Linked DNA regions of Homo sapiens. The protein of the gene in region 1 purifies or fractionates together with the protein of each later gene. This does not show direct contact. Each region holds a gene or a part of one and is shown in the gene's direction. Other genes may lie near its edges.

What was found. The genes of interacting proteins can lie anywhere in the genome.
Region 2: the proteins of BPHL (region 1) and MTHFD1L fractionate together in Homo sapiens (co-fractionation; one large-scale study listed by BioGRID). This does not show direct contact.
Region 3: the proteins of BPHL (region 1) and PLA2G4D purify together in Homo sapiens (affinity purification with mass spectrometry; one large-scale study listed by BioGRID and IntAct). This does not show direct contact.
Region 4: the proteins of BPHL (region 1) and CARS2 fractionate together in Homo sapiens (co-fractionation; one large-scale study listed by BioGRID). This does not show direct contact.

The regions. Positions count from the first base shown.
Region 1 is NC_000006.12:3,125,211-3,128,710, forward strand, and holds part of BPHL (serine hydrolase BPHL isoform 1 precursor), read left to right. Parts: intron 1-2,031; coding exon 2,032-2,198; intron 2,199-3,500. UniProt on the Homo sapiens protein: Specific alpha-amino acid ester serine hydrolase that prefers small, hydrophobic, and aromatic side chains and does not have a stringent requirement for the leaving group other than preferring a primary alcohol.
Region 2 is NC_000006.12:150,864,425-150,868,501, forward strand, and holds the start of MTHFD1L (monofunctional C1-tetrahydrofolate synthase, mitochondrial isoform 2 precursor), read left to right. Parts: upstream 1-1,277; 5' UTR 1,278-1,398; coding exon 1,399-1,625; intron 1,626-1,908; exon of another isoform or gene 1,909-1,934; coding exon of another isoform or gene 1,935-1,963; intron 1,964-2,022; exon of another isoform or gene 2,023-2,788; coding exon of another isoform or gene 2,789-2,910; exon of another isoform or gene 2,911-3,158; intron 3,159-4,077. UniProt on the Homo sapiens protein: May provide the missing metabolic reaction required to link the mitochondria and the cytoplasm in the mammalian model of one-carbon folate metabolism complementing thus the enzymatic activities of MTHFD2.
Region 3 is NC_000015.10:42,084,563-42,088,062, reverse strand, and holds part of PLA2G4D (cytosolic phospholipase A2 delta), read left to right. Parts: intron 1-362; coding exon 363-435; intron 436-626; coding exon 627-763; intron 764-1,718; coding exon 1,719-1,850; intron 1,851-2,531; coding exon 2,532-2,572; intron 2,573-2,924; coding exon 2,925-2,967; intron 2,968-3,500. UniProt on the Homo sapiens protein: Calcium-dependent phospholipase A2 that selectively hydrolyzes glycerophospholipids in the sn-2 position. Has a preference for linoleic acid at the sn-2 position.
Region 4 is NC_000013.11:110,640,917-110,644,016, reverse strand, and holds the end of CARS2 (probable cysteine--tRNA ligase, mitochondrial), read left to right. Parts: intron 1-36; exon of another isoform or gene 37-684; intron 685-1,495; coding exon 1,496-1,702; intron 1,703-2,408; coding exon 2,409-2,480; 3' UTR 2,481-2,600; downstream 2,601-3,100. UniProt on the Homo sapiens protein: Mitochondrial cysteine-specific aminoacyl-tRNA synthetase that catalyzes the ATP-dependent ligation of cysteine to tRNA(Cys). In addition to its role as an aminoacyl-tRNA synthetase, has also cysteine persulfide synthase activity.

The DNA.
Region 1 (3,500 bases):
AATTTTGTATTTTTAGTAGAGACGAGATTTCACCATGTTGTCCAGGCTGGTCTCAAACTGCTGACCTCAGGTGATCTACTCGCCCCGGCCTCCCAAAATGCTGGGATTACAGGCATGAGCCACAGCACCTGTCCCCAATTTAATTTTTTTTTATGTAAAGTATTAGCATGATTCCAATATTAAAAAAAATGGACCAGAGGAGATTCTCTCTCCTGTCCTATCCTCAGCACCCAGTTCCCCTCCCCACAGGCCTCTCAGATGTTACATGCTGATAACTATGTACATGTATTCCTTAAATGTTTTTTTAAGTTTTATATTCTTGGCACTGGTCTTCAAATGTGTACATGTGTGCCAGGGAGCAAATGCCTTCTTGTTTCTGAAATTGGTCTTTTAGACTGTTCTTTTTTCCCATCTTCTCACCTCCTGCCCCTCCTTCAGGGTACTTCCGTGGCCAGAACCCCTCCAGGTCAGAGGCAGAAGAGAAGCCTCATGGGTCACAGCAGCAGATGTGGGCTGGAGATCTATTCATTTGGTTTTGGCTTGAATTTTCTGAATGGTTTACTTGATCTTGGGAAAGATATATCTTGCCAGGAAAAATGATAGGCCTTGACAATGTTGAATGATCCTGCACCACCTTGAAAGACATTTTCTAATATGGTTTGTCAGGCAAAGTGGTTAGTAGTCATTTGTGGCCTGAGGTAGAAGTCCTCAGAAATCAGCAGACTTCACTGATAAAATGCTGACTTGCCCCTGGACTGGGCTCTGTGAGAGTGGCCTTCTGCACTGTGCACAGTAGGTGTGAACACACCACACCTACAGGGACCACGTGGTGGGCTGTGGACTAGCGGCCAAGCTCCCTGCAGGCCCACTAATAGAATTCAGCTTTTAGCATGGGCTGTTTCATACTGTTCTGATGAAACTGATTTGGTTTCTTTCCTCCATACCCCTTCTGCATTTCAGTGTTTTTGTTTAGTTTTCCTGGTTTTTAATTATAACTACAAAATAAAATCTTTAGGCTATTCACCTTAGCTTAGTAAAAAAAAAAAAAATTAAAAATCTGGAATTTTAGAATTCTACTTTGAATAACTTGGACCAAATCTCATAAATTTCTTTGCAGATATTATAGAGATCCCTCTCATGTGTAAGTCATTGTTTTAAGAAGAATAGATAACCCAGAAGCATATCTGTGAATTAATTTGTATACAGTTTCATTAATTCTTTCCTTTAGAAAAGGAAGATTAAGCCAAAGAGGTTTCAAAAGTGCTGAAATAATACAGAAGCAAAGGAAGACCCAGGGCCTCTGTCTTTCTCAAAATAGCCACCAGGGGGAGGTCGGAGGCAGGCCTGCACTCCGCCGGGAAAGGAAGCGCGCCTCCTTTTTTTTTTTTTTTGGTGGAGGGACAGAGTCGCACTTTGTCACCAGGGTAGAGTGCAGTGGCGCAATCTCCGTTCACTGCAACCTCTGCTTCCCTGGTTCAAGCGATCCGCCCGCCTTGGCCTCCCAAAGTGCTGGGATTACAGGCGTGAGCCACCGCGCCCGGCCCCTTTTTTTTTTTTTTTTGGAGACTGAGTCTTGCCCTGTGCTCAGGCTGGAGTGCAATGGCGCGATCTGGGCTCACTGCAACCTCCGCCTCCCGGGTTCAAGCAATTCTCCTGCCTCAGCCTCCTGAGTAGCTGGGACTACAGGCGCACACCGCCATGCCCGGCTACATTTTTTTTTTTTTTTTTTTTTTGTATTTTAGTAGAGATGGGGTTTCACCGTGTTGCCCAGGCCGGTCTCGAACTCCTGAGCTCAGGCAGTCCGCCCGCCTCGGCCTCCCAAAGTGCTAGGATTACAGGCGCACCCGGTCAGCCTGCCTCCTTTCTTCGAGTGGATGGATTAAGTCATTGCAAGGCTGCTTTCCTGATTACATTCTGACCACTTTGAGTAGAAACTACTTTGCTTTTAAGATTGTTATTGCTTCTGTTTTCACTGTAATGTGTTTGATAGTGAAAGCGATCACCTGAGGGTAACCAAGTGGCTGTTTTTAGGAAGTGGAGAGACTGATTTTGGACCTCAGCTCAAGAACCTCAATAAGAAGCTCTTCACGGTGGTCGCCTGGGATCCTCGAGGCTATGGACATTCCAGGCCCCCAGATCGCGATTTCCCAGCAGACTTTTTTGAAAGGGATGCAAAAGATGCTGTTGATTTGATGAAGGTAGGTCTCTGAGGGAAGGGCCAGGGGAGGAAGGGTGGCTGGGCCTGTCTTCATTTATTTTGTTTAAATTTTGTTGTTATATTTTTCTACAAAATAATACCATGTGATTGCTATAGAAAACCCCAAGAGTTCAAATAGGTATAAAGAAGAAAGTAGAAATAGCCCACAGTCCAGCTCTCTAGAGACACTACCAAATCTTGGCGGCTCTGCTTTCTGGCCAGTCTTATTACATCACAAACGCAGTTTCATATTGATGGCATCGTGCTACACCTAACGTTTTTCTAACTTACTATTTTTGTTGAACAATTTTTCAAGGAAATAACTTTCATGTCAATAAATATGCATTTATACTAGTTGTATGATAGGCACATATTATTCCATTGTATGGATGTACTGTATCTTATTTCACCAATTTTCTTTTTTTTTTTTTGAGACAGAGTGTTGCTCTGTCACCCAGGCTGGAGTGCGGTGGCGCAATCTTGGCTCACTGCAACCTCTGCCTCCCGGGTTCAAACGATTCTCCTGCCTCAGCCTCCTGAGTAGCTGGGATTACAGGCACATGCCACTATGCCCAGCTAATTTTTGTATTTTTAGTAGAGACAGGGTTTCATCGCATTAGTCCGGATGGTCTCGATCTCCTGACCTCATGATCCACCCACCTTGGCCTCCCAAAGTGCTGGGATTACAGGCATGAGCCACCACACCTGGCCTATTTCACCAGTTTTCTAATAGTAGATAATTAACTTAATTTTTAAGTTGCCTTTTTCTGCTGTTATAAATAGCAGGCAGTGAACATTCTGTTGCTCGTGGGCATTTTCATTTTTTTGCCACTATAAACAGTATTGTTGTGGACATCCTGGACTGAGCTCCTGGCACACAGGGAGAATTTCATACACATTTAGGAGACAATTTGCTAGGTGATGGAAGTTCCAGATGTTCATTTTGCAGGATAGTGCCACAGTAGTTACACCATTTTATGGTCCGGGCAGCAAATATCTTGGAGTAATATTAATTCTTTACCTTTAATTTTCCAGTCATTCCATTCTTTTTTCTTGGCGGCCTCTCTAAGATGTAATCTTTGTCCATTTTCCCTGCCAAACGCATGTCCAGACCCTCTCTGATTCACCCGCGGACTCACACAACCTCCCCATGACGCTGTTCTCTGACAGCCTGGCTCTTGCCAGTTCTTCCCACAGTTGCTTTACCAGATACCCTGCTTCACTCCATCCAGCAGAGCTCAGGGTCCCCTCTCTGATCTACAGAACTGTTCTCAAGGTCCTTGCTCAGGCATGCATATGCACA
Region 2 (4,077 bases), about 150 Mb from region 1:
TCACGTTTTATCCATGTCTGTGTGGATTTTCTCTGTCTTCTGGTGTCCTGTCACATCCCAAAGCCGTGCAGTGCACTTTAGGTAAATTGGTGCATCTACACGATCCGAGTGTGAGTGTGGGTGTGTGTGAGCACACCCTGTGAGGTGCCCTGAGTTGGAATAAGCCGGTAAAAATGATCTCACTTTTATTAATCTTTATTTTTCTCTAAGCGAGAGGGATAGGGGGTGTTTAAAAAAAACTTTTTCTTTGAGACAGAGCTGTGCTCTGTCGCCCAGGCTAGAGTACAGTGACATGATCTCGGCTCACTGCAACCTCTGGCTCCTGGGTTCAAGCGATTCTCCTGCCTCAGCCTCCCGAGTAGCTGAGAATACAGGCACGCGCCACCACACCCAGCCAATTTTCTGTATTTTTAGTAGAGATGGGGTTTCGCCATGTTGGCCAAGCTGGTCTTGAACTTCTGGCCTCACGTGATCTGCCCACCTCAGCCTCCCAAAGTGTTGGGATTATAGGCGTGAGCTAAAAATCTTCCTTAAATATATGCATGGCTCACACTTATTTCAATGTTTAATATTAGAAGTGTTTTGGTCTTTATTTCGAAGTTTAGGGGCGATTTTGTGACCACAGATATGTTGTAGGAACTTCACTCATATCAATTAGCCTGTGGTCAAACTGTTTTCCTTACAGTCATTTGGCTTAAAGTTTCAGTTTCCAAGAACCCCTCCACGATGTTAGGTGAGGACTTAGGGAATGTGGAGATGACCTAAAGTTTATGATGGGAAGATGTGTGTAGGTGATATGCAAACACTTTTTTTTTTTTTTTTTTTTACCAAGGACTTGAGCATTTGTGGACGTGGGTCCCCTGGAGGGGCCCTGGAACCAATCAGGACTATAAAATCCTTTTAAGGTTTTAAGAAGAGCATTGTTATCTCTGTGGTACTGACGAAGACCCCGCAAGCTCACCGAGATTAAGTGCCCCTGCCTAAGGTTACAAAGCCTCTTATCCTCAGGCCACCTCCAGTACAGCAAATCCAAGCCCTCCCGTCTAAACTTGGCGCCCTGAGTACCAAGGGTCACCTCGGCCTTTCAGGCTGAAGGGAGGGAGGCTGAGTCTCAGGGCAGAGTCTGAGTCCCACTCCGCACCCCACCCTCTGTCTGGTACAGCTTACCAAACCAAAGTGCCCAAAGCCGTGACATCCCGGCCGGCGGCTCGCAGGCCCCCGCCCTCCGCACGTCACGGCCGCCGGGTGCAGTGCCCCCTAGGGGCCCCTGGGACGAGGAGGAAGCGCCAGGTCCTTCCCGCCGCCGCCGCCGCCGCCGCCGCCTGCTCCCCTGGCACGCGCCCCGCCGCCCTCGGCAGCCGCAGCTCCGTGTCCCCTGAGAACCAGCCGTCCCGCGCCATGGGCACGCGTCTGCCGCTCGTCCTGCGCCAGCTCCGCCGCCCGCCCCAGCCCCCGGGCCCTCCGCGCCGCCTCCGTGTGCCCTGTCGCGCTAGCAGCGGCGGCGGCGGAGGCGGCGGCGGTGGCCGGGAGGGCCTGCTTGGACAGCGGCGGCCGCAGGATGGCCAGGCCCGGAGCAGCTGCAGCCCCGGCGGCCGAACGCCCGCGGCGCGGGACTCCATCGTCAGGTGAGTGTCGGGTCTGGCCCTGGCCCAGGTCTCCAGCGGCTGTGGCCCCGACCCAGGGGCGGAGCGCCCGGGACCGCCGTGGGGAGCGGGGCGCGGGGCTGCGAGTGTTTGGTGCCAACTCATTAGGGGGGCCGGGCGGTGTGTCGGGAAACGCGGGCTTGGGCACTGCGGCCGGGAGCGCTGGCGGAGAACGGGGGATCCAGTACCCGACCGGGCCCGCAGCGCAGGTGGGCGTGGGCATCTCCAATGGGCGCCTAGCGGCATGGACCGCACGCCCGGCTCCACGTGCGCAGCCGGCCGCCGGCTCTGATGCAATCGCGCCGGGCGCGACCCAGACGGTAAAGGGGCGGTGCGGCTGGGGCGGAAACCAGGGGAGGGGGCGAGGAGCAGGAGGAGGGCGGGGCTGCGGCTCGGCGCGCCGGCTGGCCCGGGGTTCGGGAAGGGCAAGCGGAGCTCGGGAGAGGCGGGCTCGGGCCCAGCGCCGCCCGCGCGAAGCTCCCTGGTGTTGTGCGCCCTTCCCCGCGCGCGGCCCCTCCTGCTGGGCTGGGGTCTGTGGCTGACGTCCGCTTTTCCCGGAACGGCAAAGGTGGAGCCGGGCCCCCGGGACAGCCGCCGGGGGGAATCCGAGAGGTCTCAGCGCTGGTTTCCAGCTTCGCCGCGCAGCGCCCACGGAGTCCCCGCGCAGCTGGGTTTGCAGGGTTTTCTGCGGGCCCAGAGCGAACTGGGAGCCCCGGGCCCGGCCTTTCCCGTCCCGGTCCCCGCCCCTGGGCTCCAGCCTTCCCCGCCCTCGCCCAGAGGGGCGCACGGGTCTCGGGCCTTGCAGGGCGAGCCCTTCGGGACAACTTGGGGGTGGCAAGAAAGCCCCTTCCGCCTCCCTCGGAACTGGGATTAGGAACGAGTTCCAGGATGCGGTTTCCCCGGCCAGCGGACCACCTCCTCCATTCACATCCTCTTCCCTTTCCTTCTAGCCTTCTTTCTTAGTCATTGCCTGCTTGCCTTTCTCTCTGCCTTTCCTTCCTCCCTCTGCTCTCCCATTTTCCTCCCCACTCCCCTTCTCCCATCTCAGTAAAATACGTTTCCTAGGCTCTTTATTATGTGGCGGATGATTTTAAGGGGCCATTTATTTAGTTTTTCTTGTTCTCTGTCTTCTTTTTCTTTTAGAAATGGAGTCTCGCTTTGTTGCTCAGGCTGGAGTTCAGTGGTGCCATCTCGGCTCAATGCAGCCTCCGCCTCCTGGGCTCAAGCGATTCTCCCGCCTTAGCCTCCAGTGTAACTGGGACCACAGGTGTGCGCTACCATGCCCGGATTATTTTATTTTATTTTCATAGAGACAGAGCACCACTCTGTTACCAGGCTGGTCTGGAACTCCTGGGCGCAAGCCATCATCCCTGCCCCCAAAAGCGCTGGGATTAATTACACGTCAGGTCATTAGGTTTTAACCTGCACGTTGCTGAGACTCATCTTACCGGTTAGAGTCTGAAGCCAGGATAGGCGGCAAAAAAACTTCTCCCGTCATGCTGTTTTATTTTCTAGGTAAACTGATTATTACCTGAAACTTCCTTCTTTGCTCATTTCTTGTCTGTCTCACCCACCTGGAATATGAGCTTCATGAGACAGCCGTCTCTTCGGTGCTATATCCTAGGTCCTGGAGAGAGTGCCCAGCATGTAATAAGCACTTGTGAAATGGTTACAGAAGGAATGCTTCAAGATTTGGGGTCATCTGTGGGTTTTATTCATACATATTCTTTTTTTTTTTTTTTTTTTTTGAGACGGAGTCTTGCTCTGTCACTCAGGCTGGAGTGCAATGGCACGATCTTGGCTCCCTGCAACCTCTGCCTCCCAGGTTCAGGCGATTCCCCTGCCTCAGCCTCCCGAGTAGCTGGGATTACAGGAGCACGCCACCACGCCCGGCTAATTTTTGTATTTTGAGTAAAGACAGGATGTCTCACCATGTTGGCCAGGCTGGTCTTGAACTCCTGACCTCAGGTGATCCGACTGCCTTGGCCTCCCAAAGTGTTGGGATTACAGGCGTGACCCACCGCGCCTGGGCTATTCATGCATACTTTTAGGTTTAAAGCCATGACTGCCTTAGAGATGAGTAAAGAGGTTAGTAGGGGGCTTTAGGGCCTGCACTGGGTTCTCCAAACTCAATTCCTTCAGGAAAATGGGAGGAGTAACAGTACTTACCTCAAGGGGTTATGGAAACAATTATGTGAGAGGACACATGCAAAATACATAGCCCAGGACTGTCACATACAAGACAAGTCCCTCAACAAATGGTGGCTATTAATTTTTTTTTTTTTTTTTTGAGACGGAATCTCACTCTGTCGCACAGGTTGGAGTGCAGTGGCGGGATCTCGGCTCACTGCAACCTCCGCCTCCCGGGTTCAAGCGATTCCCCTGCCTCAGCCTCCTGAGTAGCTGGGATTACAGGCTCGCACTACCACGCCTG
Region 3 (3,500 bases), on another chromosome or scaffold:
CCCTGGGAGCTCTGGGAATGGCTGACATCTAACTGACCTCTGTGGTTGCCACTCCTTGGCCCTCACTTCCTTGCTCTGTCCACTACCCATGTTGCTCTGTTCCCGAAGGGGAAGGGGTTCCACAAATTCCACATCTGGGTGTGCTGCTATTCCCTGACTGCTGCAGCCCAGAACCATGACCCCCAAAACAGAAGTGGACAAAGGCTCTTTGGTCCCCAGAGGGTGTCCCCGGAACGCCTGGCAGGGGTGTCAGCACCACCAAGTACCAGGAGAGTGGTGAGGGGTGTCGGCAGCCCGGGCTGCAGCTCCAGGCATAAGGGAGGGAATGCAGGAAGGACTCTGGAGTTTGATTTTCTCTTCAGGGGGAGGCCTCTACCTGCTGGCAGCTCACAGTGAGGGTCCTGGAGGCGCGGAACCTGCGCTGGGCTGACCTGTGTGAGTAACCGCCCTGTGCGCTCTGTCGGGAGCAGGGAGGACCAGATCCCATAGGAAGGGCCAAGACGAGTGCCCTGGGGCTGGGCTGGGTCACCTGCGGTGACCGCCAGGGTCTTGGTAGGAAACTGGCATGGCTCATGGAGAGGGGTGTGGGGAGTACTCCCTCACGAAGACTTCCTTAACCTTGGCAGTGAGTGAGGCCGACCCTTACGTGATCCTACAGCTGTCGACCGCACCTGGAATGAAGTTTAAGACCAAGACGCTCACCGACACCAGTCATCCTGTGTGGAATGAGGCCTTCCGTTTCCTTATCCAAAGTCAGGTCAAGGTGAAGGCCCGGGACTCCTGGCCACTCCCTTGTGAACGGGCTGGACCCCCATGCAAGGGTTCCTGGGGTAGAGCATGCTTCCTCTGGGGCTGTCAGAGAAACTCTCAGCAGTAGGGGGTCTCTGTGCCCTGGCCTGTCTGTGCTGTGTGCAAGGGAATGTATGAAAGAATGAACATGGTCCTTTCACCAACTGGCTGTGGGACTGACTCCCACAAGCTGGGTTCCTCTCGAAGCCCAGCTATGAAACAGAGACAGTAAGAGCCCCCTCCTGATCAGGTCACTGTGGGGTGAGATGAGATAATGCGTGGAAGACCGTGAAAGATCACCAGCACATACCTTAGGGTGCACCTCAGGGAGCCAGAAAAGCCAGGGAGAGAGAGACACACAGACAGGGAGAGAGGAAGAGGGAATTATTTGACAGACTTTTATGTGTTTTGTTTTGTTTTTGAGACAGAGTCTTGCTCTTATTGCCCAGGTTGGAGTTGAATGGCGCGAACTGGGCTCACTGCAACCTCCGCCTCCCAGGTTCAAGCGATTCGCCTGCCTCAGCCTCCCGAGTAGCTGGGATTACAGGCACCCACCACCATGTCCAGATAATTTGTTGTATTTTTAGTAGAGATGGGGTTTCACCATGTTGGCCAGGCTGGTCTCGAACTCTCGACATCAGGTGACCCACCCACCTCAGCCTCCCAAAGTGCTGGATAACAGGCATGAGCCACCATGCCCAGCTCAGAATTTTATGTTTGATAAAAACAAAAATTAGAAGGAGGAAATTTGAAATTTAATAAGATTTCCTTATATTTAAGTTTTACAGTTTTTTTTTTTATTTTGAAGCGCAGACGTGTGGTGGCATAATGATCTTCTCTGACTCTAGACATCAAGTAAGGGCTCAACAGAGGTGAGCTACTCTCACTATGAGCAGGTAAAATGCTAAGTCGCTGTTCCTGGTTCCTAGAATGTTCTGGAGCTTAGCATCTATGATGAGGACTCAGTCACGGAGGATGACATCTGCTTCAAGGTTCTCTATGACATCTCAGAAGTCCTCCCTGGCAAGCTGCTCCGGAAAACCTTCTCCCAGAGTCCCCAGGTGGGTGGGTGGGTGGGGAAGTCCCCGTGGGCCCCACTTCTTCCAACTCCAAGCTGAGGAAGTAGCTATTTCTCCCACCTGTTGGGAGGCTGCTGGGGTGAACTCATTCACAGAAAAATCTAAACCCCTTTTTAGATTTGCATTTTAATAAGCAAGGAAAAGGCTTCACTTTACAGTTACAGGCTGAATCACCCAGTGGAGGAATTTTAGCCACCTGTGGCAGGAAGGCCACCCCTCAAAACACAGCTCAGCATCCATCACTCCTGCTGGTGGTGCCAAGGCCTGCTTTGTGAAGGCCTCACGTCCCTTCCTGCTGCAGCCTGGGGGTGGGGACGGCAGAGTTCGGGGGTCTGGGCCCTCCTCAAGAAAAAGATATGGGTCCTGCACATCATGCCTCCTTTGGCTGTGCTCCTTGTCTTCCCCTTCAGTCTTGCCCAGAGTTGTGGGACCTCCAAGGGAGGGAGACCTGTTCTCTGCAGACTTACTAGCTGTGGGCAATGTGGGCAGGTAGCCCATCTGGCCCCATACCTCAGTTTCCTCATCCATAAATTGGAAATAATTGTACTAACGTGCCTCCCTTGGAGACCGCTTGAGAGGATGAGATGACACCTGTAAAAGAACTGTGTCAACTCTGAAGACACAGGTATGTGCTGATGACTTGCTCATGCTCTCTGATTTCAGGGAGAGGAGGAGCTGGATGTGGAGTTCCTGATGGAAGAAACGTGAGTAATGTCACACAGCCCAGGGAGTGTCTCAGGACTCAGGCTCTGAGGAAATGGCCCTGACCCAGATCTCCCTGTGGTCAGTCCAGCCTGACTGTCCCTCATCTCCTACCCCTGCCAGAGAGGTCGGGAGTGGGGCGGGGCTTCTCTTAGGGAAACACAGAGAGGAAGGCCGATGTTTTCTCTCTCTGCTCTCTCCCCTCCCCTCTCCTCCTGCAAAGCATCTCCCCTTGTCCCTGAACCGAATCCAGGACTTACAGAGCCCTCAGCATCACCCAGGGAGACCCCACATGGGCGGGAGCGGGAGGTCAATGCAGGAAGCGTTTGCCTTTGCATGGTTTGATTTTTCCAGGTCAGATCGCCCAGAAAACCTCATCACCAACAAAGTCATTGTGGTAAGCACCTTCCCCAGGCTTAGGGGAGGGGCCCCAGAGCAGACGCTTGGGGAGGGAGGGCAGCTGCCTGGGGTGTGGACCAGCAGGGACAAGGAAGGGGCAGGGCTTCGTGGTAAAACCACCCCTAGCCTTCCAGCCAGGTGGTCACCTGTGGCTGTGGGTCTTGGAGGGGCCTGGAGCTAAGGGGCGCATAGAGAGAGGGGAGGCAGGGCTCTGCTGAGAGGAGGTTCTGGCCCACGGCTGTTCGGGGTGCTTCCGGAAGGTGTTTAGTCACCTGCGGTGAACTCATAGTTCTAGGGATTGACTGAGTGCTTCCCTGGGAAGCGGTGAAGAAATCAGGTAGGCCAGGCCCACCTTCCGGTTGTTCACGTTGAGGTCACCGAGGCTCAGAGGGAGTTCCCAGGGCGGTGTACTGCCAACCTAGGAGGATCAGAGGCTCAGGCAGCTAGCTCCTCCTTGGGACTGGGGAGAGTCCTGGTCAGCGCTCCTGACCACGGGCTCACGAAGCTGCAGTGGACAGAAATGGCCGCAAG
Region 4 (3,100 bases), on another chromosome or scaffold:
GAGCCCCCTTGCCTGGCACATGTTTTGTACGGACAGGACGGGCTCCCCGACAGGCACGAGTCACCTGCACCTTCCCAGCGAGGCTCACCCTGGCTGTGCAGTGAAGGTGGACGCTGCCAGGCTTCTCCACATTCCTTCTCTTCCGTTGTAACTCAAGAGCATTTTTGCAAAGAGACTTGGATCCTATGAAAATGTCCTCTTCCTTATCAGGCTCACCTGAAACTCGTTTATTCTATCAATACAGATTTGAGGTTTCCTGCCTTATTCTTAAAGTCCCCACCATCACTTTGTATGTGGCTGACAGAGGCCCCTTGGGGCTGGCGCTGTGTCCCTGAACATCCCTGTCATTCTTTGGACACCCTTGTAGAATTCTCAGCACAAGGCGCTCTGGCTCTTTTGGGGTGTGGCTCGGCTGCTGCTGCCTGGACGGGGGCTGCCACTCTAGACCAGCTGCCCAGCACCCCGAGGGTCCCGCCGCTTGGGACTGGGGCCCAAGCAGGTGTGCTGAAGGCCTGGCTCTGGGCCAAACATGTCTCGCTGGCTCTCAACAGAGAACTATAGTGTCTTTTCCAAGTTTGGCTCATTTGTATACCTGTTGATCACCTGGTAGACTTAGTTCCCCTTTCCAGCAGTCCGGCGTCTGTTGCCAATCACATAAAAGTCGACTGGTGTGAGATGACCCAAGTTTTTGCAATGTACATGTTCATTTTTAGGGGTGGCTTTCCGGAGTCTGTTTTGAGTAAGAAAAGTGGGATCTGGCCAAGCTCTGCCTAGCCCTTGTCAAAGATATCTCATTCACCTTCCTCTGGCCGCAAGGCCCAATGTCTGGGCCCACTCTGGGCTCATATTTCTGTAATAACAAAAACTGTCTTTTATCATGGAAGCAATAACTGAGGGGTGTGTGAGGTTTAAGTAGTTTGACACCAAGGTCAAATGTTGTGTCTGTTTCTTATTTTACACACATGGATTTAACAAATAGGTACAGCTGCCCCTTCCACACCGCCCCAGGATCTGTTCTCAGTGGGAGGACAGCGCGAGGCCTTCTGCGCAAATCCCGTCCTCAGCACCTGAGGCTGTGAATCTCAGACCATTTGCCGAAACACACGTGTGCAAGCGCTCAGTCGCTGCCCCCCAGCCTCATCCTCAGGTTGCTCCTGATACCTCGGCCACAATTGCGTGAGGTCTGGAAGCCAGGGAGCGTTTGTGTTCAGGGCGGGGCGGCATGCAGCCCCCAGCCCTTTCTTCCAACTCCCGAGTGAGGATCACTCAGCCTTGCTTGGACGACAGATGCTCAGAGTTGAGTGGAGCCTTGCCCAGAGCCCAGCGCTCGCGGGCTGTACCCATCCCTGCCAGACCCAGAAAGAGGCCCAGCTGCAGGGAATCAGGGAAGCCCAGGGCTGGGTGGGTGTCGGCCCAGAGCCCAACCACGGGGTGGGGAGGGGGCATCCACAATCCACAGTCTCCGGGGGACGTAACCGCGCCCTGCTGGCTTCAGTACGTTTCAGGAGACGGCAGCGAGGCTACCTTGCATGGTGTGGTGGACGAGCTGGTGCGGTTCCGGCAGAAGGTCCGGCAGTTTGCGCTGGCCATGCCCGAGGCCACGGGGGACGCCCGGCGGCAGCAGCTCCTAGAAAGGCAGCCCCTGCTGGAAGCATGCGACACCCTGCGCCGGGGCCTGACTGCCCACGGCATCAACATCAAGGTGAGTGCCGCACCAAGGTCAGGGACATCACCCCAGGAGCCGGGTAGGTCAACAGGACGTGGGGCCATCAGAGGCCCAGACATCCCCCGTGACCATGCTTTTTTTTTGAGACGGAGTTTCACTCTTGTCACCCAGGCTGGAGTGCAATGGCGTGATCTCGGCTCACCACAACCTCTGCCTCTGCCTCCCAGGTTCAAGCGATTCTCCTGCCTCAGCCTCCTGAGTAGCTAGGATTACAGGCATGCACTCCCATGCTCGGCTGATTTTTTATTTTTAGTAGAGACAGGTTTTCTCCACGTGGGTCAGGCTGGTCTCAAACTCCCGACCTCAGGTGATCCTCCCACCTCAGCCTCCCAAAGTGCCAGGATTACAGGCGTGAGCCACTGCGCCCTGCCCATGCTTCTGAGTAGAGAAACCCACCCCCATAAAAAATGAGGTGGGAGGGCCGTGAGGGAGGGGCCAAGTTGGCTGCAGGGGACGCTGAGCACGGGGACGTGGGTCCTGCTCAGCCCCCGCCACCTCCTGCAGGTGCCTTGAAGCTCCTGGCCTTCTGCTGGAGGTAGTGGGGCCCTTTCTAAGCGCCTGGCAAGCTTTTTAGGACAGGCCGGTGAGGGAACAGGCACCCTGAACCTGATTACGCCTGTCAGCCCCCTGTGCCACATGACGTGGTGTCTGCTCAGAGTTGGACCTCACTCTTCTTCTCCAGGACAGAAGCAGTACAACATCCACGTGGGAACTGCTGGATCAAAGGACAAAAGACCAAAAATCAGCGGGCTGAGGATGGAGCACAGCCATGAACCTGCTCACGACAAGACGCACCCATGCTTCTCAGGGTCAAGGCTTTATGTTAAAGCTTCCTGTCGGGGCTGCTAGGTCAGCATTAAAGTAAGGCAACCAACAGTGTCCCACTGGCGTCTGTTTGTTAGTAACTGAGCCTAAACACTCACTGCGTTCTGTGGCTACAGACTCACCGTCGATTGAGTGAAGTAGTGTCAGACATTCAGTAGCATCCAGCAGCACACGTGCCTGTGCGTGAGACCTGCTGGCCCTGTGCCCAGGGAACAGACAACACAGCCAACAGAAGAGCAGGGACCCCGGGAGGCGGCAGAATGCAGCCTGTTTCCTCCTGAGGGAGGGGCTGGGGATGGGTGAGGTGGGTGGGCCACGCAGCATAGTCTGAAGCAGAGGTGGGACGCCAGCAATGCTAACCCCGGGACACCTCCCCCAGCAAGAACACAATCTTACGTTTTCTCTCTGGTTACAAAAGTAACGTATTCAGCATAGGAAAAATGCAGCTGAGAACCCGTCTGCAGTCCCGCTGCAGTTAACATCCTGGCAGCTGCAGGCCATCTTGGTGGTCATGGTCTGTGCAGAGCAGTGATGGGGTCGAGCTGGGCC